2 separate regions of the Homo sapiens genome follow, and region 1 is linked to region 2. The links come from fine-mapping of genetic effects on gene expression. Tissue or cell type: whole blood. Region 2 holds a variant in brackets; the other region holds the start of a gene. All regions are shown on one strand. Distances are from middle to middle. Region 1 holds the start of CLIC4 (chloride intracellular channel 4). Region 2 overlaps CLIC4 (chloride intracellular channel 4).

Region 1 (15,431 bases), 22 kb after region 2:
GAAATAGACAATATAATTAAAAGCCATGAGAAAATTCACTAGCTGATGCCCTAAATTACATTTACATGTCTTAAATCATCCTTGGACAATAGGTAACCATGACCTAATGTCATTTTCCTTCAGAAAGTCCCTTTCCATTCTCTATGCAAGCGTCTAAAACAGGCAAACCCATCCTAGCTTACTCCTCTACTTGACCAAAATCTTAACTCATGCCTTAATCACACTTCCCATCCTGCCTAACACATTTTCCTTTTATGGACTCACAATTCCCTACTCAGGGGACATCAGAACACGGAGGCTCCACAGCTCTAACGAAACAGGAAGCGGAAAAGGATGGCTCACCATCCTTACTTACTGGCTTCTAGGCACCTCTGCAGGCATCTTCCCAAACCAACTGTGACATTTCCTGACAGCCAGGTTCTTCTCCCAATTGCCTCTTTCCTATCATTATTCATACTCTGTTAAGCTTTTCGTGTGCTCAGTCTCCTAGGCTCAAAGCCTCCTGCCTCTTCCCCATTCTAGGCTCCTTTCTCACAGGTTTTTACATTAAACCAAAATCATCAAATTTGGCCTTTGCCAAAAGTAGCATTATTAGGTCTTCAGGAACAGCTCAGGCAAAAAGTTAAAATAATAGGTTTTCATTAACTTCATACTTTACATTCATTTCTGTCTCCTGAATTTTCCCCCCGGAAACCTCAAATGAATGGCAAATCAATTAGATTCAAGGTAATATTGTCTGAATATTGAGTTAGCTTTTGTTAATTACCAGAACAGTTTTCAGCATCATTTCCTATAGAAAATTTATTTCATTTTTTTCTGTTAGAAAAAACAAAGACGGGGGGAAGTTTGAAGCCTGTCCTTGAAACAATATAAAGAATTCCCACTTTAAACTGTCAAAACAGTCCATCTGTACAATCCATTTGCACCTTCCCAAGTGCCACTGAAAAGTTATTAAACAGACAGCAATCCAAAAACACAGGAAAGTGTGGGGAGAATGAAAAAAGTTAGGAAAATGTATACATTAACAAAAACCCAAGTTAGGTTTTAAAAGTCTCATCCTCAACTTTTAAATAACTTGTCTCCCTGGCACTATAGATCTGAATCACTCCTGGTTCCTTCTTAGGTATCAATCTACCAATTGTTTCCTGCATAAGGAGTTTCCACATAATGTCAAAACTCACATTCCCATTCTTGGCTATTCCGAACCCACCTATTCACCTCCTTTTTCAAGGTCAAGTTTAAGCCTCCTTCCATCTTTCCCCATGTCTCCTAGCCCTACTTAATGTGAGCCCCACTTGACTCTTTAAGCATGGACCATCTTGTATTGTTTTCTTTCCAATAAAATTTGTAAACCTAAAGAAATTAACTGTTTAATAATTTCTTATATCTTCCATAGTACTTAACTCAGTATTAGCACTTAGTTCATGCCGGTACATTCTTTAAGTCATAGTTAATAATAACTAGAAGAGACCTTTGTGATCATCTAGCCCAAGCCCTTCTTTTATACCTTGCTTATATAAAGTATTCTTGACTCTAAGAATTCCACTATTTACTTCTTTTAGAACAGTGGTTCTTAGCCTTGGTTTAGGAATTTCCAGAAAAAAAGCCTCACATTAGAATTTTTTACTGTAATTTCAAGGATTTACAGAACTCCCTGATCCTACTAATAGAGCCCACATTTAAAAATAATATACTATTAGGCTGGGCGCGGTGGCTCACGCCTGTAATCCCAGCACTTCGGGAGGCCAAGGCGGGCAGATCATGGGGTCAGGAGATCGAGACCATCCTGACCAACACGGTGAAACCCCATCTCTACTAAAAATACAAAAATTAGCTGAGCATGGTGGCACGCGCCTGTAGTCCCAGCTACTCCAGAGGCTGAGGCAGAAGAATCGCTTGAACCCGGGAAGCAGAGGTTGCAGTGAGCCAAGATTGCACCACTGCATTCCAGTCTGGCGACAGAGCGAGACTCCGTCTCAAAAAAAAATAATAATAATAAACTATTATCGATGACAAAAGCAGGTGTTTACTATGTGTCAAGCACTCTTCCTAAAGCTTTACATAGGATGGTATACGGTTAGACCACACTTGCCAGCCTCTCTTGCAGATGAAGCTATGTGATTAAGTTCTCTCCAATAGAATGTGACCGGAAGTAACAGGTAGAACTTCTGAGCTGGGGCCCTTAAGATGTGCTTCCTCCATATTTTCCACCCCCCACTGGCAACAGACAGTACTTGTCACCCACCAACTTTGACAATTCAGAAGAGGACAATGCTCTGGGAGTTAGTGGACAAATAAGCTAGAAAGAGCCCGGGTCCCTTAATGACTCTGAGGAGGAAAGCCACCCTAACATCTAAGACATTCTCCTGGACTGAGGGGTGAGAAATAAACTTCCATCATATTTGAACCACTGTTTGTGGGGGGATAACTTATTACAGCAACTTAAACTACCCTAACTAATATGCACAGATTAACAGTTTTAATCCCCTCAGTAACCATATAAAATTGCTATTATTATTATCCTGATATTAGAAGTTAGGAAACTGAAGCACTGAGAGCTTAAAAACTTGCCTGACATACTAGAAGCCAGATTCAAGTCAAGCAGTGTGGCTCCAGAGTCCAAGCACATTAGGAACCTCTGCCAAATATCTCAAAAGAAACAGACTCTTATGTGTTATGCCACCCTGCACCAGATTAACTTTTTACAAACACCACCCCAATCCCAGCAGCTTGGTGACTACTTGCTGACAGTGATCATCCCAGTTCACAGTGGCACAACAACAAGTTTAAATTCCAGCCCATAAAACTGAACTCCGCAAAGGGATTACTTTCTGTTTTTTGATTTGATTGTTTTTGAGACAGAGTCTTGCTCTTGTCCCTCAGGCTGGAGTGCAATGGCACAATCTCGGCTCACTGCAATCTCCGCTTCCCGGGTTCAAGTGATTCTCCTGCCTCAGACTCCCGAGTAGCCGGGATTACAGGCGCCCGCCACCACGACCGGCTAATTTTTGTATTTTTAGTAGAGACGGGGTTTCGCCATGTTGGCCAAGCTGGATGGAGAAACCCCATCTCTATTACTCTCATTTGTGGTTCAAGAGTTAATATTTAGTTTTACCCAAACAAAAATCTTGGTTCCCCAAATTCTGGACATAGCCAAGAAGAAACACTAGTAAATATATAAAAGACTGGCACGGTGGCTCACGCCTGTAATCCCAGCACTTTGGGAGGCCGAGCGGGTGGATCACTAGGTCAGGAGTTCAAGACCAGCCTGGCCAACATAGTGAAACCCCGTCTCTACTACAAATACAAATTAGCTCCTCATCTCTACTAAAAATACAAAAAATTAGCTGGCCATGGTGGCGGGTGCCTGTAACCCCAGCTACTCGGGAGTCTGCGGCAGGAGAATCGCTTGAACTCGGGAGACAGAGGTTGCAGTGAGCCAAGATCGTGCCACTGCACTCCAGCCCGGGTAACAGTGCAAGACTCCATCTCAAAAAAAAAAAAAAAAAAAAGACTGGAAGTATTAAATGGAGAAAAAAAAGAGGTGAGTACATAAAATTACACTGGGTTTGGAGACTGGAGGCTAGAGAAATCAGGATGAAGAACCATGCTTTGATGCTCCAACCATCGGGATCTCAGTAAGTGGTTTCTAATTCCAAAGCATGGTAGAGACATACATTGACAACAAAATGCTCAACAACAGAATTCTCTGAAAGAAGGGCACAATCTCATTTCAAACATTTGGCATCCTCTTAAGTTGCAGGCACTCTGAACCATATGCACACCCTATCCTCAAGGAATTTACTGTCTATCTAGTAGGGGAGATCTGCCTATAAATATATATTCATACAAAATTATACACAACTAGCATTTATTTGCTTACTGTGTACTAGACATTGTTCTAAGATTGTTGCATACTACATATATTAATTTATCCCATAGGACTGTTCTACTAATATCCCAACTGTGCAGATGTGGCACAGACAGGTTTAAGTGATGTATCCTGGGATACACAATTAGTAACTGGACATATTGGATTAGAAACTCAGGCAGTAGGCCAGGCTCGGTGGCTCACGCCTGTAATCCCAGCACTTTTGGAGGCCAAGGCAGGCTGATCACCTGAGGTCAGGAGTTCGAGACAAGCCTGACCAACATGGAGAAACCTTGTCTCTACTAAAAATACAAAATTAGCCAGGTGTGGTGGTGCACACCTGTAGTCCCAGCCACTCGGGAGGCTGAGGGGTAACAAGAGCGAAACTCCGTCTTAAAAAAAAAAAAAAAAAGAAAGAAAGAAAGAAAGAAAGAAACCCAGATTACAAGGGACCTTATGCCCTTGCTAAAAGGTCTCAAATATACCGTATCTGTTGGTGGTTCCCAGCTGGAAATATATACACCTACCAGGCTCCTGAGTGGGGTAGAGAGCATCTCCACTGTTGAGGATGATTGCCATTATAAGCCTTTGTTGTTTTCCTCCCGAGACAGGGTCTTGTTCTGTCACCCAGATTGGAGTGCAGGTACATGATCATAAGCTCACTGCAGCCTCGAACTCCTGGGCTCAAACAATCCTCCCACCCGCAGCCTCTAGGGCTAGGGCTGCAGGCGTGGGCCACCAGGCCCAGCTTAGTTACTTACTTATTTATTTAGAGATAGGGTCTCACCCAAGCTGGAGTGCAGTGGCACGATCACGGCTCACAGCCAACCTCTGCCTCCCAGGCTAAAGGAATCCTCCCACCTCAGCTGGGACCACAGGCATGTATCACCACACCCAGCTAATTTTTTATATTTTTTGTAGAGATGGGGTTTTGCTACGTTGCCCAGGCTGGTCTCGAACTCCTAGGCTCAAGAGATCCGCCTGCCTCAGCCTCCCAAAGTACTGGGATTACAGGCGTGAGCCACTGTGCCTGGCAATTTTTTTAATAGTTTTTGTAGAGACAGGGTCTCGCCATGTTGCCCAGGCTGGTCTAGAACTCCTGCGCTCAAAAGATTCATCCTCCTTGGCCTCCTACAGTGCTAGGATTACAGGCGTGAGCCACCACAGCCCAGCTGCCTTTTTTACTTTTGAGAGGGCATCCTATCTATCCTCCAGATGTTGAGGGTAAAACAAAACAAAAACAAACCAAAAAAACCATCCTGCTGTTATATAGATGACAGGGAGTTAATGGGCTCACAGGCAGACAACTCCAAAAACTACTCACAAGGAAGGAAATGCAGCTGTGAGTTCAGTCATACTATTTGAGAAGGTGCTCATCTCTCTCTCTTAAATGTGAAGCTCAGTGCTAGCTAGACAGGTAGGCTCAAAGCCCCATTACATCTCTTGGCCTTTCCCCTAGCGCCACCACCAAATTTCTAATTTCCATACATGCTATGTGCTTCAACTGTAAATAGTTTTCTTTTACAAACTCAGATACCTCTTGGCAGGTTAACACTGTTCAACATACCACTCTGGACAACCACAGCCTCTGCACCCTCTCTACTTTCTTTTTTTTTTTTTTAATTTTTATTTTTTGAGATGGAGTCTTGCTCTGTCACCCAGGCTGGGGTGCAGTGGCACTATCTCGGCTCACTGCAACCACCGCCTCCCAGGTTCAAGCAATTCTCCTGCCTCAGTCTCCCGAGTAGCTGGGATTACAGCCATGCACCACTATGCGTGGCTAATTTTTGTATTTTTAGTAGAAATGCGGTTTCGCCATGTTGCCCAGGCTGGTCTCAACATCAAGTGATCCACCCCCCTCCGCCTCCCAAAAGGCTGGGATTACAGGAGTGTGCCACCACACCTGGTCCACTGCTTTCAAAATAACTATATTTACAAGGGTATTTCCCCCATTTGCATTTCCCACACGTAGGTTTTGAGAAGAGATCAAGAATGCCCTTTACCACATTTTACCTGTCCTTTTTTCCCCTTTCAAACAAACTGGTCTAGGGGCCAAGCACAGAGGCTCAAGCCTGTAATCCCAGCACTTTGGGAGGCCAAGGCAGGCAGATCACTTAAGGTCAGGAGTTTGAGACCAGCCTGGCCAACATGGTAAAACCCAGTCTCTTCTAAAATACAAAAATCAGCCAGGCGTAGTGGTGCATGCGCTCCTCGGAAGGCAAAGGCAGAAGAATCACTTCAACCTGGGAGGCAGAGGGTGCAGTGAGCCGAGATCGCGCCACTGCACTCCAGCAGCCAGGGTGACAGAGCGAGACACCATCTCATTAAAAAAAAAAAAAAAAAAAAAAACAAAAAACCTGATCTGTATCAGTGCAAAGTTTGCCTATGTTGAATCACTGGGTAGCAGAAAACATTTCTTATTTCACAAATGAGACAAACAAGGCTTAAAGAGTGAAAACAAACTGCCTAGGGTCACCCAACCAAGGAGTAAAGAACTGTGACTTGAACCCTGATTCTCTGCCACCAAGCCCAATGAGAAAGGCTTACAACTAGTGGTAGGAAGGATGATTTTCAGTGGTTCTCAACACAAATATGAAAAACAGAAAGGGGATGCAAGTGACTCAAGTTTGGAAAACTGCACACGCCCCTCTGCTATTCTAACTGAAAGATGAAATTAATAGTAAGCAGGGCATTAATCACTGATCTCTTCCTAATTCAGATACTTAATTTTTCTTGTCTTCTTTGATTAGCTCCTCCAATAGAATAATAGAATACTGAATAGAGCCATAACTGATAATAGCTTTATCTTTTTTTTTTTTTTTTTGAGACGAAGTCTCACTCTGTCGCCCAGGCTGGAGTGCAGTGACTTGATCTTGGCTCACTCCAACCTTTGCCTCCCCGGTTCAAGCGATTCTCATGCCTCAGCCTCCCGAATAGCTGGGCCCACCACCATGCCTGGCTAATTTTTCTATTTTTAGTAGAGACAGGGTTTCACCATGTTGGCCAGGCTGGTCTCGAACTCCTGGCCTCAAGTGATCTCCCCATCTCGGCATCCCAAAATGCTACAGGTGTGAGTCACCTCACCCGGCCCGATAGTAGCTTATTCTAAGTTTAATACTGTTCTAAAGTTTCACCGTTAAGTATCATGTTTTACAGATTATTCATGGATGCACTTTTTTTGAGTTTATGGAAATTCCTTCCTATTCCTCACTCAGTAAAAATTTTTTTTAACTCATCTCTGGCCCACTTGTTTCCCTTCTCCATGCTGTTTTCCACCCACCACCCTTCCTTTCTTTCTTTTTTTTTTTTTTTTTTGAGATGGAGTCTTACTCTGTTGCCCAGGCTGGAGTACAGTGGCGCAATCTCCGCACACCACAACCTCTGCCTCCCGGGTTCAAGCAATTCTCCTGCCTCAGCCTCCCGAGTAGCTGGGACTACAGGCACGCGCCACCACGCCCAGCTAATTTTTGTATTTTTAGTAGAGATGGGGTTTCACCATGTTGGCCAGGATGGTCTCGATCTCCTGACCTCGTGATCTGCCCACCTCAGCCTCCCAAAGTGCTGGGATTACAGGCGTGAGCCACCGCGCCCGGCCTCCTTCCTTTCTTGTATTTCAGGTTCCTTCCTACATTCTACGCATCTCAAAGTACTATATCTGCCACTCAAAGTAACCGAAACGCTTTGATATTTTGGGGGTTCTATACCTGTCTGCTGTTTCAGTTCCCTGGACCAAAAAAAAAAAAAAAAAAAAAATCGAAAATTGACAATTGAAAGAAAATCCTAAGGCAAACACTGTTCCAGTCATTACTGAAGACTGCAGAGGTAAATGCAGATTATTTCTTCTCTCCATCTCTTTTGTTTGAGACAGGGTCTTGCTCTGTCGCCCAGGCTGGAATGCAGTGGTGCGACGTGGCTCACTGCAGCCTCGACCTCCCGGGCTCAAGCAGTTCTCCCACCGCAGCCTCCAGAGTAGTACAGGCGCGTAACATCGCTCCCAGCTAATTTTTGAATTTTTTTGTAGAGACAGGGTTTCGCCATCTTGTTCAGGCTGGACTCAAGTAATCCTCCCACCTCGGCCTCCGAAAGTGCTGCGATTACAGGCATGAGCCACCGCGCCCAGCCCTTCTCTATCTCTTAAACACATCCTGAAATGTCCTTTCTTTAAAGTAAAAACTCGGGGAAAAAAAAGAACCCAATAGTTCTAGATGACCATTTACTTTCCGGTATGTTGCCTAGCTCTGAATGAGCCTGGCTTTTTAAGTGGCTGGAAGAAGCTCAAAGTGTTTTTTTTAAGTTTTGAGGGAAGGAGCTGGATCCAGATGTTTATAACTTCGACTCTCTCCTTTGCTAAAATAAAAAGTATTAAAGAGAAAAGCAAAGGAAGAGGGGTAGTATGTGTAAGCAAATAAATTCCACACATGAAAGCTGAAGACACAAGGGAAAACCAACCCTTTAAAGCCCAAGCAAGTTAAGAATTCTCTCCCTCAATTTCTTTCAAAACAAAAGGGCACACACAATCCTTCCCGAAGCAGCAACGCCGGGGGGAGAAGCCAAAATGTTGCATCATACAGAACACTCCGCGCTTGAGAAACGAGAAAGCCAGTAAATGCCCAAGACAGAAAAACACAAGTTGGGAATCTCGGTCTTTTCCGAAGGTCCAAGAGCACCTGCTCTTTGGTAAATTTGTTTAAGATTGCATCGAAAATTAAAGTTTCCGTTTCAGACCAGTGGGGAGCAAATGCTTTTTCAAAAACGCGTTCAAAGAAGTTCGTTTGAAAGCTCATCGGGCGGCGGGCCGCAGTTCGGGCTCCGGGCGGCGGACCGGAGCGCTGGGGAGCGGGTGGGGCCGGGCCCCGGCGCCCGGGCGGGGGGTGGTGACAGGACCCGCGCGCGCCCGGCGCTGGGGCCCCGGGGCAGGCAAGTCCCGCCCGTGGGCTCTTCCCGACCCACCCGGGCGCGGGACGCTGGTCTGGCGTCCGCCGATGCCTACGCGCTGGAGACGGTGGCCGCCGCCCGGGTCCCCAACCCGGACCCCTCGACGGGCCCTCGGAGGCGGGAAGGCGCGGGCGGCCCCCAGACAATGGGCCGGGGGCGCGGGTGCCCGCAGCGGGACGGGTGCTGGCGCCGAGCGGGGGCGCCTCAGGAGAGCCCCGGGACGCCGCTCCCCGCAGCCGGGAGGGAGCCGGGGGATCTGCCGGGCGGGACCGCGAGGCGAGCGCTCACCTTGACGAAGAGCTCGATGAGGGGCTCTTTGTCCTCCTCCTTCAGCCCATTCAGCGGCATCGACAACGCCATGGCCGGCTCGGCTGCGCTCCGCGAACGGCGAGGGCTGCTGCTGCTGCTGCTGCTTCTGCTCCGGGACTGCTCCGGCTGCCGGTTCCCGCCGTGCTGCTCGCTGGACTGTCCGGCGTCGAGCTGGCCACGGCTTCAGCTCCTCAGCACCGCCCCACGCCCCCCGCGCCACTCTGAGCCAGCCGCAGCCCGAGCCGCTTCAAACGGCTGGGAGGGGCGCCGGGGGCGGGGCCTCGGGCTGTAGGCAGGGCCAAGGCGCGGCGCCTCGGGACTCTCCGGGGAAAATAAGGCGGCAGGAGCACGGGGGCGTGGCCTCGAGCGGGGAAGGCGGAGGGACCGCTCCGGAGCCGAAGAAAGGACCTCTGCGGCGCCCCACAGCTGGTAGGGGGCGTGGCCTTGGTGGGCGGTACAAAGCTCAGGCTCTGGCGGGCGGGACCCGGGTACGCCTCTCTAGGGGACTGGTGCGGGGGGGAAAGGAGGGGAGGAATTCCCCAGGGGCCCGAGCCTGACACTGCCTCCCGCCGCAGCGCCTGCGCGTCCTCCGCAGCTGCTGCTGTTGCTGTGCCAGGTGACCTCATGCCTCGGCCGCCCTGGGGAAGCTAGGAGGCGCCTCCTACCCACTCCCCCGCTGCAGCACCCCAGGACTCATCGCCCTTTCCCGCAGCGGCTACCTCCCCAAGTCCCTCTATTACGCGGAGTTGCCTTTTCCAAGACAACTTACTGGAAAGTTTTCATCGCCTGGGGAACACCTTTTTCTTCTGCCTCTGACTTCGTTTTTCCCTTTGACGCTCCTGATCGTTTCGATCTTGGCAGCCAGCATATTCACAAATATATATATATATATATATATTTTTTTTTTTTTTTTTTTTGAGACGGAGTCTGGCTCTATCGCCTAGGCTGGAGTGCAGTGGCGCGATCTCGGCTCACTGCAAACTCTGCCCCGGGTTCACGCCATTCTCCTGCCTCAGCCTCCCAAGTAGCTGGGACTACAGGCACCCGCCACCGCGCCCGGCTAATTTTTGTATTTTTAGTAGAGACGGGGTTTCACCGTGTTAGTCAGGATGGTCTCGATCTCCTGACCTCGTGATCCGCCCGCCTCGGCCTCCCAAAGTGCTGGGATTACAGGCGTGAGCCACCGCGCCGGGCGCATATTCACAAATATTTATGAAACCTTACTGTGTTTCAGGCTCTGAGCTAGCCCTTGGAGAGTAACAACTCCCAAAGCTCAAGATCTTGAACTGCAATCTCAGTGCCTGCAGGCCACTAAGGACTTCCAAGTCGTTGTCCATCTTGTTCCCCACTGCCCACACCCATTTCTTCCCCCCGGCTCACCTGTCAAATTTGAGTGTGCATCAGAATCACCTAGGTGCTACACGCAGCCCCGCTTTTTGTGTTTCCCAGATCCTCTGGGAAAAAGAGAAATCCACATCTTAGCAAGCACCAGGACAATTCTGAAGTAGGTGGTCCGCAAACCAGTTAAACTGCCCTGGGATTTAAGCCCCCGAGGGCAAGAGCTGTGCTTGCCTTGAGATTGTAGGCACCTGGTCCTAGTTTGCTGCTGTTGAGTGCCTGGGGCAAGTTTCACCTCCTCTGGAAACAATTACTTGTGCCCTTTTCTGACTTTCCATAATACTTGACTCACAGCTACTCCTCCCAACTTCCCAGGTTGGGATAAATAGTGAGTTCCAGGAGGCCCAGACATGGGAGGTTTGTCTCCATATCCTCGGTGCCTAGCACATACCAGAATGTTTGAACAAATTGTACGTAGGCATGAAAATACAGTGAAACTTGCAATTTCTTCCTCTGCCAGCCCAAAGTAAGTTGCTCAAATTTTCTCACAGAGGCTCTGTGAAAGAGCCAGTGTATCCCAGTGGTCAGGAACACGTGCTCTGTAGTCTGACTGTTTAAGTTCAAATCTGACAAGGCAGTGTCCTTAAAACCCCTAAGCCTCAGTTTCATTATCTAGAAGTGGGTGGGGCTAATTACTGATTCTTGCCTTACCATATGTGCTGCTCCGTCAGTATGGCTGTTAACTGCATTGAGACTTATTCTGTCCCTACCACCCCTGCAGGCTAGAATGTGGCATCATATTCTACTCTCTCTATGCCCGGCTAGTTCGTTGAAAATAAATAAATAAATTCCAGGAGGCTCCCCTTAGATGGGGGCTTGAACCATGAAAATCCTGAAGTGACTGACTAGACTCTGGACTGAACCGTGTTAATTTTTCATAGAATCATGAACTGAAGCAAAGTTTCCTTCCAGAATCCACCCTCTCTGCCCTACCAAAAAGGAACCAAATGGTGAATCAGTTCAAAGCAGATCTAAGCCAAAAAACAATTCAGCAGAAACTCAATGTACCTGAGAATTGATCAAATTGAGGCCGGGCACAGTGGCTCATGCCTGTAATCCCAACACGTTGGGAGACCGAGGCGAGTGGATCACCTGAGGTCAGGAGTTCGAGACCAGCCTGGCCAGCATGGCGAAACCCCATCTTTACTAAAAATACAAAAATTAGCCGGGTGTGGTGGCACATGCCTGTAATCCTAGCTACTCGGGAGGCTGAGGCAGGAGAATCGCTTGAACCGGGGAGGCAAAGGTGGCTGTGAGCCGAGATCACGCCACTGTACTCCAGCCTGGGCGACAGAGCGAAATCCATCTCAAAAAAAAAGAATTTGAGTTAGAGGCAGCAAATATTCCCGGTGGTGACTTGCCCTTCACAGGCTCCAACTGGCCTCACAGCACCAGGGTATGGAAGGAGGAACAGACCAGGGCCCTTTAGGCTTCATTGACTAAACAGAGATCTTAGCTAGGAGGAAGCCAGGGGCATTCTCCACAGAGCCCTGAGGTGGTGATGATCTCCTGGGCTCCTCCTACCCAACAGGAAGCCCCCCAGGAAGAGGCTCAGACCCAGAGCCTGTGCTTAGACGTAGTCTCAGTCACACCTACAGTTTCCCAAGTTCCGCCCTCATATGGCTCCCATGGATGGGCAGTCAGTCCTGGGAGTGGGTGAAAGGGAAAGAGGATGTTTATGCAGGGGAGGCCCCCTAACCACATAGCAGTCAAGTCTCCTCTTCGAATTTTGAATTGCATGCCTGCTTTACATTCTTTACTCAGGCTTGTTTTTATAGCACACAGAAATCTTTAAGATGGGTGGAGACATGTTGTCTCCTCCCACACACACCCCTCTGACCTCATCTCCTACCATTCTCCCCTGTGCTCTCCACCCCAGCTTCACTGGCCTCCTTTCTAGTCCTTGGATATGCGAAGCACACTGTGGCCTCAGGGCCTTTGCATTTGCTCTTCCCCCTCTCTGGAACATTCTTCCCCCAGAATTTCTGCAACTCCCACTCCCTTACTTCCTTTGGCTCTTTGCTCAAATGTCATCTTCTCAGAGCGCTCTCCCCAAATACCACCCTATGCAACGTTGCAAGTTGCTATCTTTCACTCCACCCTCCACTTTATCTCTCTTCATAACACTTACAACCCTCTGATACATATCTACCTATTTATCTGCTTATTGTCTGTCTTCTCCCACTAGAACATAAATGCCATAAGGGCAGGGATTTTTTGTTTGGTTTTGTTTATGGCTATATTCCTGGCTCAGAGGACAGCTCATGGTACACAATAAAAATTTATGGAGTGGGCCGGGCGCAGTGGCTCACGCCTATAATCCCAGGATTTTGGGAGGCCAAGGCGGATGGATCACCTGAGGTCGGGAGTTCGAGACCAGCCTGACCAACATGGAGAAACCCCGTCTCCACTAAAAATACAAAAAATTAGCCAGGCATGGTGGTGCATGCCTGCAATCCCAGCTACTTGGGAGGCTGAGGCAGGAGAATCGCTTGAACCTGGGAGGCAGAGGTTGCAGTAAGCCGAGATTGCGCCATTGCACTCCAGCCTGGACAACAAGAGCGAAACTCTGTCTCAAAAAAAAAAAAAAATAGCTTATGGAGTGAGTGACTGTACCATGTTTATCCTATGGTTTCATGTACCCCTGACATGACATTTGGATTGTCACGCTCTTCCAGTCTGGGAAGCCAGGTGGTTTGTGTTTATGACTGCCCCTACACAGGGGGTCAGGTTTTCCTCCAGTAAGCCTCCCTTGATGACACTTTCCTCCTCCCACTTCTAACTCTGTGGTGCTGCTCGCTGACTGTCTCAGCCCAAAGTTCTGCAATTTCAGCAGCAGAATGAGCTGCTATGCACATGGACTCTGGGGCCAGACTGCCTGGGTTCCAATCCTGCTTCTGTTATTTACTAACTCAGGATACTTACTTAACCTCTCTGTGCTTCATTTTCTCATCAGTAAAAATGGATCTAAATTAGTACCATTTTCTCGTCTGTAAACATGGATCTAAAATTAGTACCTATTAATATTTAATAGGATCATTGATAAATTAGTCTATGTTAAGAGCTTGGATTGTAAGTGCTCTGTAGACACTAGCTGTTGGTATTATTCCCATCTGTCCATATTCTTGACCGGTCACTGAGCTCTCACACTGCATGCCAGACACCTAGCTGGGTGCTTTCATATCCAATCATATTTATTCATCATGGTCTTGCAAGGCTTGATTTATTTATTTATTTATTTATATTTATTTTTATTTTTTTTGAGACGGAGTCTCACTCTGTCGCCCAGGTTGAAGTGTAGTGGCACAATCTCATCTCACTGCAACCTCCACCTCCCAGGTTCAAGTGATTCTCATGTCCCAGCCTCTCAAGTAGCTGGGATTACAGGCATGTGCCACCACACCTGGCTAATTTTTGTACTTTTAGTAGAGACGGGGTTTTGCCATGTTGGCCAGACTGGTCTCAAACTCCTGACCTTAATTAAGTGATCCACCCGCCTCGGCCTCCCAAAGTGCTGGGATTACAGGCATGAGCCACCATCCCCAGCATTGCAAGGCATAATTTTCATTGTCCCCATTTTACAAATAAGGAAACTGAGGGCCAGGCACGGTGGCTCAAGCCTGTAATCCCAGCACTTAGGGAGGCCGAGGCAGGTGGATCACTTGAGGCCAGGAGCTCGAGACCAGACTGGCCAACATGGTGAAACCCCATTTCTACTAAAAATACAAAAAGTAGCTGGGCTTGGTGGCAGGCACCTGTAATTCCAGCTGCTCGGGAGGCTGAGGCAGGAGAATCGCTTGAACCCAGGAGGCAGAGGTTGCAGTGAGCCGAGATCGTGCCAGTGTACTCCAGCCTGGGTGACAACAGCGAAACTCTGTCTCAAAAAAAAAAAAGATTTCCTCATGCTCCCCAGAATGGCATGCAACTTATTTTTTATTTATTTTTTTAATAGGAGAAAAGTCATACAAATTGATTTCACATACATACACAGGAGCCTTCAGAATGAAGACCCACCTCCCCCATGAATTACGGAAACTTATATATCATCTTGAGGTTACAGAAAGAATGGGAGCTTGCATCCTGGTAAAACAGGCTATGTGAAGGGGGAGAAGAATTCTGTTTAGGGGCAATAAGGGGTTGGGAAGGAGAATGACTGGATGGGGGAGCAGGGATTAACTTGTAAATAGTTTTCTTTAGAATTTAAATGATCCTTGGAGACAGTCATTATCCTCATAAAAAGACCTGTTCAAGTGTGGTCACGTCTTAGTCTTCTTTTCTATATCACAAGATGTAAGTTTTAGCTTGCAGGGCCACAGGTCAGGAACCCTCTAAAGGACCTGCATAAACAAGGCACAAGGCCAGTCTTTCTAAGGGACGTTTATCAGTTCTATAAAGTCTATTTCAATTCCTCAAAGCAGTTTGCTCATATTTTAAAATATCCCATTCTGGTCAAAACCTTGATAAAATAACTGGTGTTTCCAATTGTGTCCCCTTTGCAGGCAGGTGAGTTTCCTGGGTTCTCTTCACTACGGCTTCCAGAACAGAACAGTAGCTTTGATCACCCTGATCACTGCACCATACTGTGGAGGCCGTAGGCTCCCGGTCCCCTAAAAGTTCACTGAAAAGTTACTGACATGAGGCAGATTGGTTAATAGGAGAAAAGGCATACAAATTTATTTAATATATATACACAGAAGCCTTCAGAATGAAGACCCTGACATGCCACTTAAATCTAATAAATGGGGCCGGGTGCGGTGGCTCACGCCTGTAATCCCAGAACTTTGGGAGGCCGAGATGCGCGAATCACTTGAGGTCAGGAATTTAAGACCAGCCTGGCCAACATGGTGAAACCCATCATTACTAAAAAAAAAAAAAAAAATACAAAAAATCAGTCAAGTGTGGTGATGTACGCCTATAA
Region 2 (15,431 bases):
TGCTGACTTTAAAAGCCAAAAAACAGTCTAGAGCAACCATCACCACTGCAAAGAAAATAAAGTAAGACACCATTAAAAAGAGAGAGAGAGAGAACCAGCACAGGGGAGCCCTAAAATCTGCATAAATCTGTCTAAATCTCTCGCTGATCCGTGAAACACACATGCACAGAGCAGGCTCCAAGTAGGCCAGCTAAGAGAACTGAACTGAAATGTACACTGCCACCTACTATGGGGGGACAGTTTTGCAGCTTGAATTCAGGTAAGTTAATCAATTGCCTGCTTTAGAAAAGAAAATCAATGCTTTTAAGACGGGCATAACAAAATTTATATATATAAATTATCATTTATCATTTGTAATATCCAGAATATAATCCAAAATTACTCCCTATAAGAAGAAATGGAAAAACCTGACCCATTCTCAAGAAAAAAAAAAAAAAGTAATCAAGGAGACTACCCTAAGATGACCCAGATTCTACAGTTTGCAGTCAAGGATTTTAAGGCAGTTATGGTAACTATGTTCAAATAACGAAAGAAAAATATGCTCAAAATAAAGGAAGATAGGAAATCTCAGTAGGGAAAGAAATCACACACAAAAATGTAAATTCTAGAACTAAAAACTACAATATCTAAATTATTTTTTCATATTACTAGATTGGCTTAACAGTAGAATAAAGAAGGAAAAGAAAAGAAAAGAGAGGGAAAGAGAAAGAAAGAGAAAAGAAAGAAAGAAAAGAGAGAGAGAAGAAAGAAAGAGGTCTGTGAACATAAAGACAGAACCAAGAAATTATTCAATTTGAAGAACAGAAAAAAAAGAGCCTCAAAGACCTACGGGAAAATACTAAAACATTTATATTTTAGAGTTCCAGAAGGAGACAATGAGGAAAAAAATATTTCAAGAAATAACGGCCAAAATTTTCCCAAAAAAAGACAAATTTACAGATTCAAGTTTCATGAACATCAAGCAGATTCAATACAAATAATGCCATACCTAAGTATATCATAATTGAAATAATGAAAAGCAAAAAAAAAAAAAAAAAAAAGAAAGAAAGAAAGGAAGAAAAAGAAAATCTTCACGGTAGCTAGAAAAAAACAACACATTGCATACAAGGAAATAATAATTTGAATGACTGTTGAATTATCATTTGGAGTAATGGAGGCCAGAAAACATGGAATCACTTTCTTTTTTTTTTTTTTCAGATGGAGTCTCACTCTGTCACCCAGGCTGGAATACAGTGGTGTGATCTCGGCTCACTGCAACCTGTGCGTCCTGGGTTCAAGCGATTCTCCCGCCTCAGCTGCCCCAGTAGCTGGGATTACAGGCATGCGCCACCACATCCAGCTAATTTTTGTATTTTCAGTAGAGTCAGGTTTTCACCATGTTGGCCAGGCTGGTCTTGAATTCCTGACCTCAGGTGATCCACCCACCTTGGCCTCTCAAAGTGCTGTGATTATAGGCATGAGCCACTGCCCTCGGTCCTTTTTTTTTCAGACAAGGTCCCGCTCTGTCGCCTAAGCTGAAGCGCAGCTCTCACTGCAGCCTCGATCTCCAGGGATCAAGCCATCCTCCCACCTCAGCCTCGCAAGTAGCTGGGACCAGGCACCTGCCACCATGTCCAGCTATTTTTTCAATTTTTTGTAGAGACAGGGTCTCACTAGGTTGCCCAAGATGGTCTCGAACTCCTGGGCTCAAGAGATCTTCCACTTCAGCCTCCCAAAGTGCTGAGATTACAGGCATGAGCCACCACGCCCAGTCAAGAACATTTTTTAAATTGCTGAAAGAATAACAATAACAACAATAAAAATCAACTCAAAATTCTATTTCCAACAAAACCATCTTTAAAGAATGGAAGAGAAGTCAAGACATTTTCAGATACAACTATTTAGAATGTGAAAGTTTGGCACTAAATGACTTAATTTCAGAAACACAGAACACTAATTTGTTTTTATTATATTAATCCATGATTATTTTATTTAAAAAAGAAGTTACTTAGCTGGGCGTGGTGGCTCACGCCTGTAATCCCAACACTTTGGGAGGCCAAGGCAGGCGGACTGCCTGAGCTCAGGAGTTTAAGACCAGCCTGGGCAACACGGTGAAACCCCGTCTCTACTAAAAATACAAAAGAAATTAGCCAGGTGTCGCAGTGTGCACCTGTAGTCCCAGCTACTCGGGAGGCTGAGGCAGGAGAACTGTTTGACTCCAAGAGGCAGAGGTTGCAGTGAGCCAAGATCGCACCACTGCACTCCAGCCAGGGCCACAGAGGGAGACTCCATTTATACAACAAAAAAAATTAAAATTAAAATAAAAAAGAAACATGCTCCTTTATAATTATTCTCACTTTGGTTACATCAAAAAAAAGTGCATCTCTGGCTGGGTGCAATGGCTCACACCTGTAATCCCAACACTCTGGGAAGCCAAGGTGGGAGGATCACTTGAAGCTGGGAGTTTTGAGACCAGCCTGGACAACACAGTGAGACCCCCATCTCTATGAAAAATAAGAAAATTAGCCAGATATGGTAGTACACACCTTTAGTCCTAGCTACTCAGAAGGCTTAAGCAGGAGGATCACTTGAGCCCAGGAGGTCAAGGATGTAGTGAGCTATGATCTTACCACTGCACTCTAGCCTGGATGACAAAGTGAGGCCCTGTCAAAAAAAAAAAAAAAAAAAAAAAAAGGTGCATCTCAAACTTTTTCATTGTCTAGCCCTCATTTTTAAAAAATATCTGCTAACCAAAGATAAATTCACTAACTGCCAGGGTCTTCCCTTGTTTATCAACTAAAGACAACTATGTTGGGACATAGGTGAAATGCTTCTGCAAGTCAAAATGCAGCAACCCACTTTCCTTAAGGGTATACACATTATACTGTAGTATAAACTAGATTCACAAAGAATCCCAAGAGTACAAGAAAACAATGAAATGTTCAAGAAATTAATATTATTCTTCCCCATCTATGCTTAAGGCAGCTATTTCTGTTCATCAAGTTCTCAGACCAATTTTAACTAGACACTCCACCAAGAGTTCAGTAGTAGAGTCAAAAATCCAATTTTCCCTTTGTAAAAAACCTAAATTCTGCAGAAAGTTTTTTCTTTTTAAGAGATTACATTCCAGGTGAAGTGTGAAAAAAGAGAGATTACAGTTTAAGTAAACAAAAGGAAAATAAAGAATTCAGAGGGTAAATGAGATATGTGGGGGACTTTTAAAACACAATTGCTTGACATGCACAGAAAATTGGCTGTAAGGATATATATCACAATATTGCTTAAAGCCAAATTTCAGACCTCTAAATGACTAAGAACAATGGATTAATGAAGATGACCATAAACAATGAAAAACTGCAATCATGAAAATGCTATACAATATTTTATTAATAGTATAAAATATTAGCTCTCAACAAACATGAATAAATTAATGAATCTTCCTCATTTGTTTTAATTTTGGATTATGTATTTTTAAATGTTCATTAAAATATATTACAAAATCAGCCGGGCGCTGTGGCTCACACCTGTAATCCCAGCACTTTGGGAGGCCAAGGTGGGTGGATCATGAGGTCAGGGGTTCAAGACCAGCCTGGCCAAGATGGTGAAACCCCGTCTCTACTAATAATACAAAAATTAGCTGGACACGGTGGCGGGCACCTGTAATTCCAGCTACTCAGGAGGCTGAGGCAGGAGAATCGCTTGAATCTGGGAGGCGGAGACTGCAGTGAGCTGAGATCGTGCCACTGCACTCTAGCCTGGGCGAGAGAGCAAGACTCCGTCTCTCTCTATATATATACATTACAAAATTAGTTTCCGCAAAAATTATATATTCAACACTGTATTTCAGCTGTGAAAGTTAATATTCAGAATTCTTGTCTATCTTCTTTGCTGGCCTAAAACTTCAAATATCTGAAGAGTATAACATAGCAGGATGTTTCTTACTGAAATATTTTACTTCGGATTTCAATGCACAGGTTACTCAAATATGATGAAGGAAAATTCTATAAATTTGACTGGCTTTAAAAAAAAAAGAAGAAGAAGAATGGTTCTGTGTCTGCTTTATTTTAGATACAACAAACAAAATCTTTCCTTAAACTTTCTTTCAGGAGCTCACCTGGGAAATAAAATATATTCTTTCGGGTCAAAGAATTCACTCCTGAAATATTTTTTCTTTCTTTGGCAAACTGCCTCCATTATCATGAAGAATTTGTATTGGCTCTATTTTTGTTATCTAATAGATTGCTTCTAATTATGAGAATTTAATTCTCTGGATCTGACGTTGGAATCTCAGGGCTCAACTTTCTGCCTAAGCCTAAGCTTAAGCCAAGCCTAAGGCTACCTTGGCATATAAAATAATACAAACTGGACTGAACATCACCTCCAAGAAATACACCCACTTGACAGATGAGGTAGCAGATCAATTAGGATACACATAGGACTTGAACCTGGCCTTCCAGTTACATAATATTCTAGTTCTCTAAACCAATCTGTTAGGTTTAGACCAATAGCTATATAGTGAGTAGCTAGTTACAAAACCCCAATTACATGTCTCAAGTTCAATAACTGAATACTACTTTTAACTCTGGTATTTTACTATGAGGTAATATAGAACACAATAACAGAAAATATTTAATATATTCTCTCTTACATGCTTATATTCCTATACTATGCACACCAATTTGCCAAAAAACACTAATAAATGCTTACTGAATTAATGAATTATCTCCTATATATAAAGGTTTGTGGTAGGGGGTAGATATAAAAGATGAAGAAAATAGTCCCTTAGTCTTTAGAAGAACATAATAATTTTTTAAATTTAAAATATAAAAAGAAGAAAAAAGAAAATAATCCCTTATCCTTGATCTCCTGGAATTTACATTCTAGCCTGGAACAAAAATGTAATTAAAGGTGATTCAGATGAGTGGCAGAATATAAAAATGCACAAACTGCCCCAAACAGTAGGAAAGAGTAGTTCTGCTAAGGGAACAACATGGTCAGAGAAGGATTCAGAACAGATTCCAACTTAGGCTTGGAGAACATTTAGTTTCATGAACTGATCCCTAAAACCCCGAAATATGTTAAGCTAAACTTTTTACACAATTAGTTGTATTCCAAAGTATTTATAGTAAGATGCGCCACAGATGTGTGTATATAGTTCTTCTCTTCAGAAGCATAGCACGTTCGTAAGGGCTTGAGTGTTTAGGAATGCTTGCAAAGGGCTCTAAGAAGGAACACAAGAGTTGGAAATAATTATTGTAAGAATGCTTTGGGGGACTTTTCAAAGTCCTTATTTGAGAAGGACATGTGCTGTGACCAGAAGCAGATTTATTCCATCATTCCGTTCTATTACAATCTCTCTAACCAGCCAATCAGAAGAAATCCTATTACCATTTAGCCATACTGAGATCTGCTTTAATGGTTAAAAATGGAATAAACCAAGAAAATACTAAGTAAAACACGTTTCTTACAACTTACAAAGATGAGTCCAGCCTCACAGTAAAAATATGTGACAAAGACTCAAGGATAAAACCAACTCAAAAAACAAAAAAAAAAGAAGAAGAATTGGTGTGAGGAAAATGACAAGGTCAAGAAATTAAAGAAGCTAATTTATTTATAACCTCCCCTCAAAGGGAGGCATAAGTGACTATGCTTCATATACAAAGCAACTTTTTAAAAATTTGTGTGCTTGTTTTACAGAAAGATTCCTTATAATTTTTTTATTCTTTTTTTAAAGAAGCAAAGGCAGGCAGACTATAAGACTAATCAGTTTGGTAAGTGAGCCAAAAGCAAGGGGGGAAAAAACAGATCCAAAAGCACTGGCTGATCTCATTAGCTTTGCTTAAGAAACTTTATAGATGTGACTTCACTCCTGGATTACACGTCTATATTTAGTTTATACCTAATATGGATAAAGTCTTGAACCAACAGTCATTTCCTCTCTCCACAAAAAGAAACTTCCTTGCCTTTTTTTTTTTTTTCTACCAACCTCTGAAGGGGGAGGAAGGGAGAAAGGGAGAGGGCAGAAAGAAAAGAACTCACAGAAAAATAATTAACAAATTAGTATATGATTTTTGTTAAACTTGAACCATTTAGACATTTCTCAATTGGAAAACAATCCTAAAATCAAAATATGTGAGGCCAAGCACAATGGCTCATGCCTGTAATGGGAGGCCAAAGTGGGAGGATAACTTGAGTCCAGGAGTTCAAGACCATCTTAGGCAACACAGTGAGACCTCATCTCCACAAAAAAATTAATTTAAAAAAAATTAGCTGGGCATGGTGGCACTGCAAGTCCCAGCTACTCAGGGAGCTAAAGGAGGAGGATCACTTGAGCCCAGGAGGTCAAGGTGGCAGTGACCTGTGATGACACCACTGCACTCCATCCTGGGCAACAGTGAAACTCTGCCTTAAAAAAAAAAAAGACATTCAAGTCAGGTTCCTTAACAAGTTTATAAATAAACCCTCTAAAGTGCTTTATAAAATACTAATTAACCAGGCCCCCAAAATGCAACGAGGTGAGGTAATGGAAATTTTAGTTGCCTTTCAAATTTTACCAAGAGAACTGAAAGCAACCAAAGTCATCTAATGAACCATCTAGGCTCACTAGTTGTTAGTATGTTTTAGAAATATCCTTAAATATTCTCAGAATTTTTTTTTCAGGGTGACTGAAAACAGAACATAAGAAATTCTGTTAGGAAAGCATTCAAGTTTCAAATAAATAGAGAAAAATAACATAAACAAAGTTATTGATTCAGGTTCTGAAATCCCAAAGACGTTAGTACAAATCACAGTACTGCTACTTACTGGCCCTGCAACCATACCCAAACAATGATCTCTCTAATTCTCATGTGTTAAACAGTATTGATAGCACCTATTTCAAAGTTTATATGAGGATTAAATTAGCTAACACATGCAAACGGCTGGCACACTGTGCCTGGCCCATAGTAAGCACCCAATGCTATCTATTACCTCATGACCATTATTCTGGCTTTAGTAGGGAAACAAAAACTTACTGATCATTTTTTATATATCTGTTTATTCTGTATAGTGATAAATTAAGTAGCTTCAGAAAACTTATAACATTATTATAAAATAAAGATTTTAAAGTCACTTCATGATTCTTACATTATGTTTTTTTGTTTGTTTTCTTTTGTTTTGAGACAGAGTCTCACTCTGCCACCCAGGCTGGAGTGGAGTGGTGCAATCAGAGTGGCTCACTACAGCCTCAATCTCCTGCTTCAGCCCCACTAGTAGCTGAGACCACAGGCATGTGCCACCATGCCCCGCTATTTTTAATTATCATTAAATAAATGATAGAGATTATATCTACCAATTACAGACATGCTAAAGTTTTCTTTCTTTTTCTTTTTTTTTTTTTTTTTGGTGAGGCAGAGTCTCACTCTGTCGCCCAGGCTGGAGTGCAGTGGCACAATCTCGGCTCACTGCAACCTCCACCTCCTGGGTTCAAGTGATTCTTCTGCCTTAGCCTCCCGAGTAGCTGGGACTACAGGCACATGCCACCATGCCTCCTAATTTTTGTATTATGAGTAGAGATGGGGTTTCACCATCTTGGCCAGGCTGGTCTCGAACTCCTGACTGACCGCCTCAGCCTCCCAAAGTACAGGGATTACAGGCGTGAGCCACCGCACCCGGCCGACATGTTAATGTTTTAAGCTTTATCATCTCATTGTGGTATAAGATGAAAAAGTCTAAAAACAATAATCTTAGATAGAGTCTAGAAAAATTAGAAGACTTCATTTTTACTCCTTAAAAATTACTAAATATAAAACCTGTAGATCTACACTATCTCAACTTCTTCCAGACAAATTAAATAAAAAGAGCTTAATCTCTTCTCTTTAAGAGAAATGTAGATGTGTTAAAAATATAAGCACGTCTACATTTCCTTTAAAGAAAGCATTAGATAAAGGCTAGTTAATATATGACCTGTTCAGTTGTAAAGGTGAATACCACAAAAATCAAGAAATAGTGAAATTTGGTAGCACAGGAAGCCAAAATCCATAATTCAAAAGTACTTTTACCCAGCACTTTGGGACGCCACCACAAGGGGATTACTTGAGTTCAGGAATTTGGGACCAGCCTGGGCAACATGGCAAGATCCCCATATCTTAAAAAAATGAAAATTTTGGCTGGGCGTGGTGGCTCATACCTGTAATCCCAACACTTTGGGAGGCCAAGGAGGGCGGATCACCTCATGTCAGGAGTCCGAGATCAGCCTGACCAACATGGAGAAATCCCGTCTCTACTAAAAATACAAAAATTAGCCAAGCGTGGTGGCAAGCGCCTGTAATCCCAGCTACCCGGGAGGCTGAGGCAGAACTGCTTGAACCTGGGAGGCAGAGGTTGTAGTTAGCCGAGATCATGCCACTGCACTCCAGCCTGGGCGACAGAGCGGAACTCCATGCCAAAAAAAA[T/A]ATATATATATATAATTTTAATTAAAAATTTTTAATTAAGAGTATTTGTACAGAACCAATAAGATCCTATGTCATAGATTATTCCTCTTTACTTTTGCACTTTCACATTAACAAAAAAGAGAGAGAGGAAAAAAAGAAAAACATTCTCACTACTAATGGACTCTCAAGCTTTAGCTACAAGTCCAGCAAGAGCTGCTGAGGCCGATGGACTAAGATGGCAGAGTCCAATCTGACTGTCCTTTAGTTACCTAGTAAGTGTCAACAGGATCAGGGTTCACTGAAGTTAATTCAAGAGCAAACTCAAGCTTAACCTTGAACTTTTTTTGTACTAACCCTGCTCTTTTGATAAAGAATGAAAAGTTCCCACCTGGTGGTAGTGGCAGTCTGGCAGATGCTTCTAATCCTGAAGGTTGAAACCACATATGGTATATTGAATATAATAAACTAACCATAGGCCAAGCCAACATGGTCTTAATTCTGCATTCCTAAAGGCAAAATAGTAAGCAAACAAGGCTTACTATGAGTTAGACTCTAAGGGCTTTTCTTATATTAACTCTTATAATCTTTACAAAAGCCCAAGATTACCCCAGTGGGGACACCAAGGCAACTAGTGAAGGGTAGAACTAGGATTCAAACACAGGCCACATGGCTCGGGAGTCCACACTCTTAGCCACTACATCAAGCTTGTCCAACCTGAGGTCCGTGGGCCACATGTGGCCCAGGACCACTTTGAATGAAGCCCAACACAAATCCATAAACTTTCTTAAAACATTATAAGGTTTTTTTGGTTTTTCTTTTCTTTTTCTTTTTTTTTTTTTTTTTTTTTTTTAGCTCATCAGCTATTGTTAGTGTATTTTTTGTGTGGCCCAAGGTAATTCTTCTTCCAGTGTGGCCCAGGGAAGCCAAAAGACTGGACACTGCATACTCTAACAGCATAATACTAAAGATCCAGTCTTCCATTATGATGACTCAATTGCCTACTTGAAATATTAATTCAAATGGTCTTCAATTCCAAAAGAAACTATTTCAGCACCTAGACAGAAATACTGGCTAGGCGTGGTGGCTCACACCTATAATCCCAGCACTTCAGGAGGGCAAGGTGGGCGGATCACTTCACGCCAGGAGTTCAAGACTAGCCTGGCCAACATAGCGAAACTATGTCTCTACTAAAAATACAAAAAAATTAGCCAGTTGCAGTGGCACATGTCTGTAGTCCCAGCTACTAGGGAAGCTGAGGCACAAGAATCACTTGAGCCCAGGAGACGGAGGTTGCAGTGAGCTGAGATTGTGCCACTGCACTCCAGCCTGGGTGACAGAGTGAGACCCCGTCTCAAAAAAAAAAAAAAAAAAAAAAAAAAAAAAAAAAAAAAAAAAAAAAAACCGTCTGGGCAACATAGCAAGACCTGATATCTAAAAAAAAGAAAAAAGGTGCAGTGGCTCATGCCTATATTCCTAGCACTTTGGGAGGCCAAGATAGGTGGATCATTTGAGGTCAGGATTTCAAAATCAGCCTCGCCAACATGGTGAAACCCTGTCTCTATTAAAAATATAGGCCGGGCGTGGTGCCTCACACCTGTAATCCCAGCACTTTGGGAGGCCAAGGTGGGTGGAACAGGAGGTCAAGAGATTGAGACCATCCTGGCCAACATGGTGTAACCCTGTCTCCACTAAAAATACAAAAATTAGCTGGGCGTGGTGGCACGTCTATAGTCCCAACTACTCAGGAAGCTGAGTCAGGAGAATAGCTGGAACTCGGGAGGTGGAGGCTGCTGCAGTGAGCTGAGATCGCGCCACTGCACTCCATCCTGGCAACAGAGCGAGACTCCATCTCAAAAGAAAAAAAACTAAAATTAAAATTTAAACAAATTTTAAAAATTAGCCGGGCATGATGGTGGGCGCCTGTAATCCCAGCTAGTTGGGAGGCTGAGGCAGGAGAATTGCTTGAACCCACAAGGTGGAGGTTGCAGTAAGCCAAGATGGCGTCACTGCTCTCCAGCCTAGGTCACAGAGCGAGACTCTGTCTCAAAAAAAAAAAAAAGAAAGAAAGAAAGAAGAAAAAGAAGGAAAGAAAAATACAAATGATACTTCAAGTAAACAATCATCCCTGGCTCTGATTTTGGGATCTATGATCTCAAATATTTCAAAAGATATAAAGAACTTTTTACATGCAATACGGAGGCAACGGTATAATCTAACACAGGGGTTCCTGCTGAGTCATCAGGACAATAGCTGCTCTCAACACTCCTAATCTTAATGGCTATCAAGCCACATGCTCAGGGTCAAAACACAGTTGCAGACTCTCCCTTAAAACTTTTTTACTTTGCAAGGAAAAACAAGTAAATCTGTTTATTTCAATCTAAAATATGAACTGAGCCCAGTCATTTGCATCACCCTCTCGACCTATTTCTCTGGCTTCTTGTTAGGCATTTGCTTTTTCCCAATCATGTGATCTTTTAGTTCTTCTTTTCCTCCCAACCTCCTCTGAAATTAAGCCTGTGCACGGAAAAAAATAAAAGCTTCTATATATTCCTTCAGCAAACATTTTATTGAGTAACAATCAAATGAGTTAATATTTCATAGATGTAGTCAACACAGTGCCTGGCACATAGAAAGCACTCCATAAATGTATATATTATTTCAATTAAATATGAAATGCTTTTCCATATATACTTCTTCTATCTCATGCATTTAAGAAATCCAACAGAAAACAGTCAATGGGAACAGTATCTATTCTAAATATAGGAAAACCAGATCTTCCTAGAAGTGAAAAGGCCTCCCAGGCAGTGAGTTACAATAACTCTAGTGGAAAATATTATCCCATCTAAGATAATTGTGTATAGTACGCCTTCCTTATAGCTCATTCATTACTGACACCTGAGGGTACATTTTCTTGCTTCCCAGAGCTTAGAGCAGTTCCTAGTAGGCACTTAGTAAAGACATGTTTAATGAAAGATTTTTTAAATTTGTAGTCTCTGTACTTACCAAAAAACCAACAACAACAACAACAACAAACCTGCAGTGAGAGAGAGTTAAAACACAAAGTAAATAAAAACAAATTTAGGGCTTTAGTGGTGAATCTCAAATTTGCTTGAAAGATTATTTTTAATAAAAGACAAAAGAATCAATTTTGGCAGGAATCCAGATGCCCTTCTGTGAAATGCCAGAAGATACCAGAGTATGAATTTTTTTTTTTTTCCCTTGAGATAGGGTCTTGCTCTGTCGCCCAGGGTGGAGTACAGTAGCACTATCTTGGCTCACTGCAAACTTCGCCTCCTGGGCTCAAGCAATCCTCCCACCTCAGCCTCCCAAGTAGCTGGGACCATAGGCGTGTGCCTCAATACACAGCTAATTTTTGCATTTTTTGTGGAGACAGGGTTTCACCATGTTGTCCAGGCTGGTCATGCAATCCACCTGCCTCGCCTCCCAAAGTGCTGGGATTATAAGTGTGAGCCTTGGCCGGACGTGGTGGCTCACACCTGTAATCCCAGCACTTCGGGAGGCCAAGGCAGGTGGATCACCTGAGGTTGGGAGTTCGAGACCACCCTGACCAACATGGAGAAACCCCGTCTCTACTAAAAATACAAAATTAGCCGGGTGTGGTGGCACATGCCTGTAATCCCAGCTACTCGAGAGGCTGAGGCAGGAGAATCGCTTGAACCCGGGAGGCGGAGGTTGCGGTGAGCCAGAGATTGTGCCATTGCACTCCAGCCTGGGCAACAACTACCCACCAAACAGTGCTGCTAAGCAGATGATCCTTTTCCAAAGCACAGCACTTATAAAGAATATTTTTAGCCAACTATAATTTACTAGCAGTAGGTTAAGGTCTATCAACTATACTTAAGTGCATTTACTCATTCAATAAGACTTACTGAATGCCTATTATGAGGCAGACAATCTACTAAATATCGTGGTGGACGCAAAGATGAATAAGACAAGGAATCTACTCTCCTGGAGCTTACTTTATTATAGCAAAGATAAGACATACATGCAAAACTATCAACAAAATAGATAACCGAAGAGTCATATAAGAGGCATGAAATATGAATCTTGAAGGATTAACAAAGGCAGACACATTTAAATGGAGATTTACAGGATTATGGAGTTTAAACAAATGGGAATGGAAGAGATGGGAAAGGTTGCTTCAGGGAAACAAGATAGCTCATATGGAAACAAAGAAGAGTTCAATTTAGCTGGACTGTAAGACCCAGGAGAAGTAGGAGATAAATTTGTCCAATTAATTAGAGCTAGACTATGAAGGTCATAGACTTGAATGCCAGACTATAGATTTGAACTTAATTCTTTTTTTTTTTTTTTTTTTTTGGAGACGGAGTCTCACTCTGTCATGGAGTGCAGTGGCATGATTTCGATTCACTGCAACCTCCACCTCCCAGGTTCAGGTGATTCTCCTGCCTCAGCCTCCCAAGTAGCTGGGACTACAAGCATGCGCCACAACGCCCGGCTAATTTTTGTATTTTTAGTAGAGACGGGGTTTCTCCATATTAGTCAGGCTGGTCTCGAACTCCCGACTTCAGATGATCTGCCCACCACAGCCTCCCAAAGTGCTGGGATTACAGGAGTGAGCCAGCATGCCCAGCCAATTCTTTCTTTAGTAGAGACCAACAAAATGGTTTTTGCACTTGCAGAGTGTGGGGGTCAGGAAAAGGAAGAACCTGTCTTAGCTGGTTCTTCAAAAAAACATAGTGTTGGACAGTCTGGCTTATACAAAGATGAAGAACAAAATTTCTTCCTCACAGAGTTTACTTGGCCTCAAGTAAAGAAGTAGGAGGGAAGGTTGTATGAAAATTCATACGAAGAAGCAATACATACCACTGAGGGGGACCTAGTGGAATAGGTGGCCATTTGGGAGATTCCTTGAAGGACATCCATTAAACCATGTCTCTCTTTAATTTTCCACTTCTTTCTCTAATAAATCAGCATTCAACCCAGCTCTTACAGCTCATACTTTTTAAAGCCTTCCCTTCATATGTATCCCCCTTTGCAGCTATCAACCTGTGTCTTCTACATAGCCAAGTTTCTTGTTAGAGTTGGCTTTACACACTGACTCCAGTCTCTTACTTCCTATTTCATTCTTCTACCCGCTGTATTATGACTTCCCACCACCACTACTCCACCAAAGCTGTTACTACGAAGGTTGCCAGTAACTTCCAGGGTGTTAAATCCAACAAACACTCAGCTTGATACAACTGGTCACTCCCTCCTTACAAACCTCTCCTAGCTTCTTCCTACCTCACTCTAGTAGTTTTCCTCTCACCACTCACTACTGTTCCCCCACAGTTCCTCTTTGTTCTCCTTGTCTAGCTTCTCCTCCATTACCCAACCCCTAAGTGTTTAGAGTTCCTCAGAACTTGCTTCTAGGCATTTTCCTCACTCTTTACTCATCCACACAATGATCTCATACACTTGTTTTTTTCTTTAGAGAGAGTCTCACTCCGTCATCAGGCAGTGCAGTGGCATGATCATATCTCACCGTAGCCTCTAACTCCTGGGTTCAAGTGAACCTTCCTGCCTCAGCCTCCTGAAGTAGCTAGGACTATAGGCATGTGACATCACGCCCAGCTGATTTTTTATTTTTATTTTTGCAGGGATGGGGTCTTGCTATGTTGCCCAGACTGGTCAAAAACTCCTGGCCTCAAGCAAATCTTCCACCTCAGCCTTCCATAGTGCTGGGATTATAGGTGTGAGCTACCACATCCAGCCTCATACACTTTAAATACCAAATATTCTATGTGTGTGTGTATGTCATATATACATATATGTATGTCATCAAGTCCCAAATATCTCTACCCTGCCTAGACTTCTTTCTGAACAGATCTGTAGGTCCAACTTTCTACCAACATCTCCACTTGACATCTCAGCCATCTTATACTCAACAAGTCAAAACTTGAACTCTGTCTGCTCCTCCTCCCTCTCCATGAACGGCAACTCTTGACCAGTGGCTCTAATTACAAACCCAAGTCATTTCTCACACTTTTCTCTCTCACATACCTCCTTAACATCCTCCTATTGACACCACTTCCAAAATCTACCTCAAATCCATTCTCTTCTCTCCATCACCTTATTAATCCAAGCCACCATCACCTTTCTTGATGGCAATGGCCTCCAAATAGTTGTCCTTATTGCCACTCTTGCCTCCCTTAAATTCATTTTCCACAGAGCCAGGCTACTCATATTAAGATGCAACTCTAATCCTGAAGCTCCCTCACTTAAACCCATCTGAGAACTGCCATTTCTACTAAGGACAAAATTCACATGACATACAAGGCCCTCCATGATGTGGCCCCTGTCAATCCCTCACTCTACTGCTCACTTTTGTTCTCTGTTTTCCAGTCACACCCTTAACTGATTATTTCCAGCCTTTACACATGCTGATTCCTTCAACCTAGAACGCTTTTCCCCTCATTCTAATTACTACTCATCCTACATGTCATTTTCTCAGAAAAGCTCTCACTGAGCCTCCATCTAAATTGGGTTTCCTGCCATTCTTTCTCAAGTTGCCCTGTTCTTTTCTTTGATATAATAACCTACTGTCCTTATTTATATGTTTCTTTAACATATGCCTCTCCAAGTAGATGATAGGTTCTATGAGGTATTAATAAATTTGAATTTAACACGTCAAAAAACTAAACTCCTGATCTCCTCCCCATCAGAACTAGCCCTTCCCACAGCCTTTTCCACCTCAGTTAATGACAACTCCATCATTCTGGCTGTTCAGAACAAAAATCTCAGAATCATCTTTAACTCCTCTTTCTCTCACATTCCACATCCAGTCCCTCAGGAAATTCTGTTGTCTCCATCTTAGAATATATCCAGAATCCAGCAACTTCCCACCTTATTCCAAGCCACCATCATCTCATGCCTGGATTACTGGAAAAGTCACCTCTAATTAGTCTCCCTGCTTCTGACCTTGCCTTCCTAATTGTCATTCTCCACAGGGATAATGGAATGCCCCGTTAAACTGAAAATAGCACCCCCTATCATTGTCAATACTCCTTAACCTAC

Evidence for each region.
Region 1: it holds the start of CLIC4, and the variant in region 2 is fine-mapped to the expression of CLIC4 in whole blood (INTERVAL, PIP 0.97).

What each region holds. Positions count from the first base shown.
Region 1 is chr1:24,739,289-24,754,719 of GRCh38, reverse strand. CLIC4 (chloride intracellular channel 4) reads right to left here and starts at 9,273. Exons shown (of 6, transcript NM_013943.3): 1 at 9,095-9,273. The coding sequence starts at 9,166. RefSeq lists silencers at 5,161-5,240, 8,702-8,861, 8,962-9,671 and enhancers at 8,753-9,358, 9,359-9,964, 11,177-11,782.
Region 2 is chr1:24,760,834-24,776,264 of GRCh38, reverse strand. All of the region lies in intron 1 of CLIC4 (chloride intracellular channel 4), which reads right to left. Among named protein-coding and RNA genes, the nearest start is that of CLIC4, 23 kb to the right of the region's middle. The variant T/A (reference allele first, on the strand shown) is at 8,412.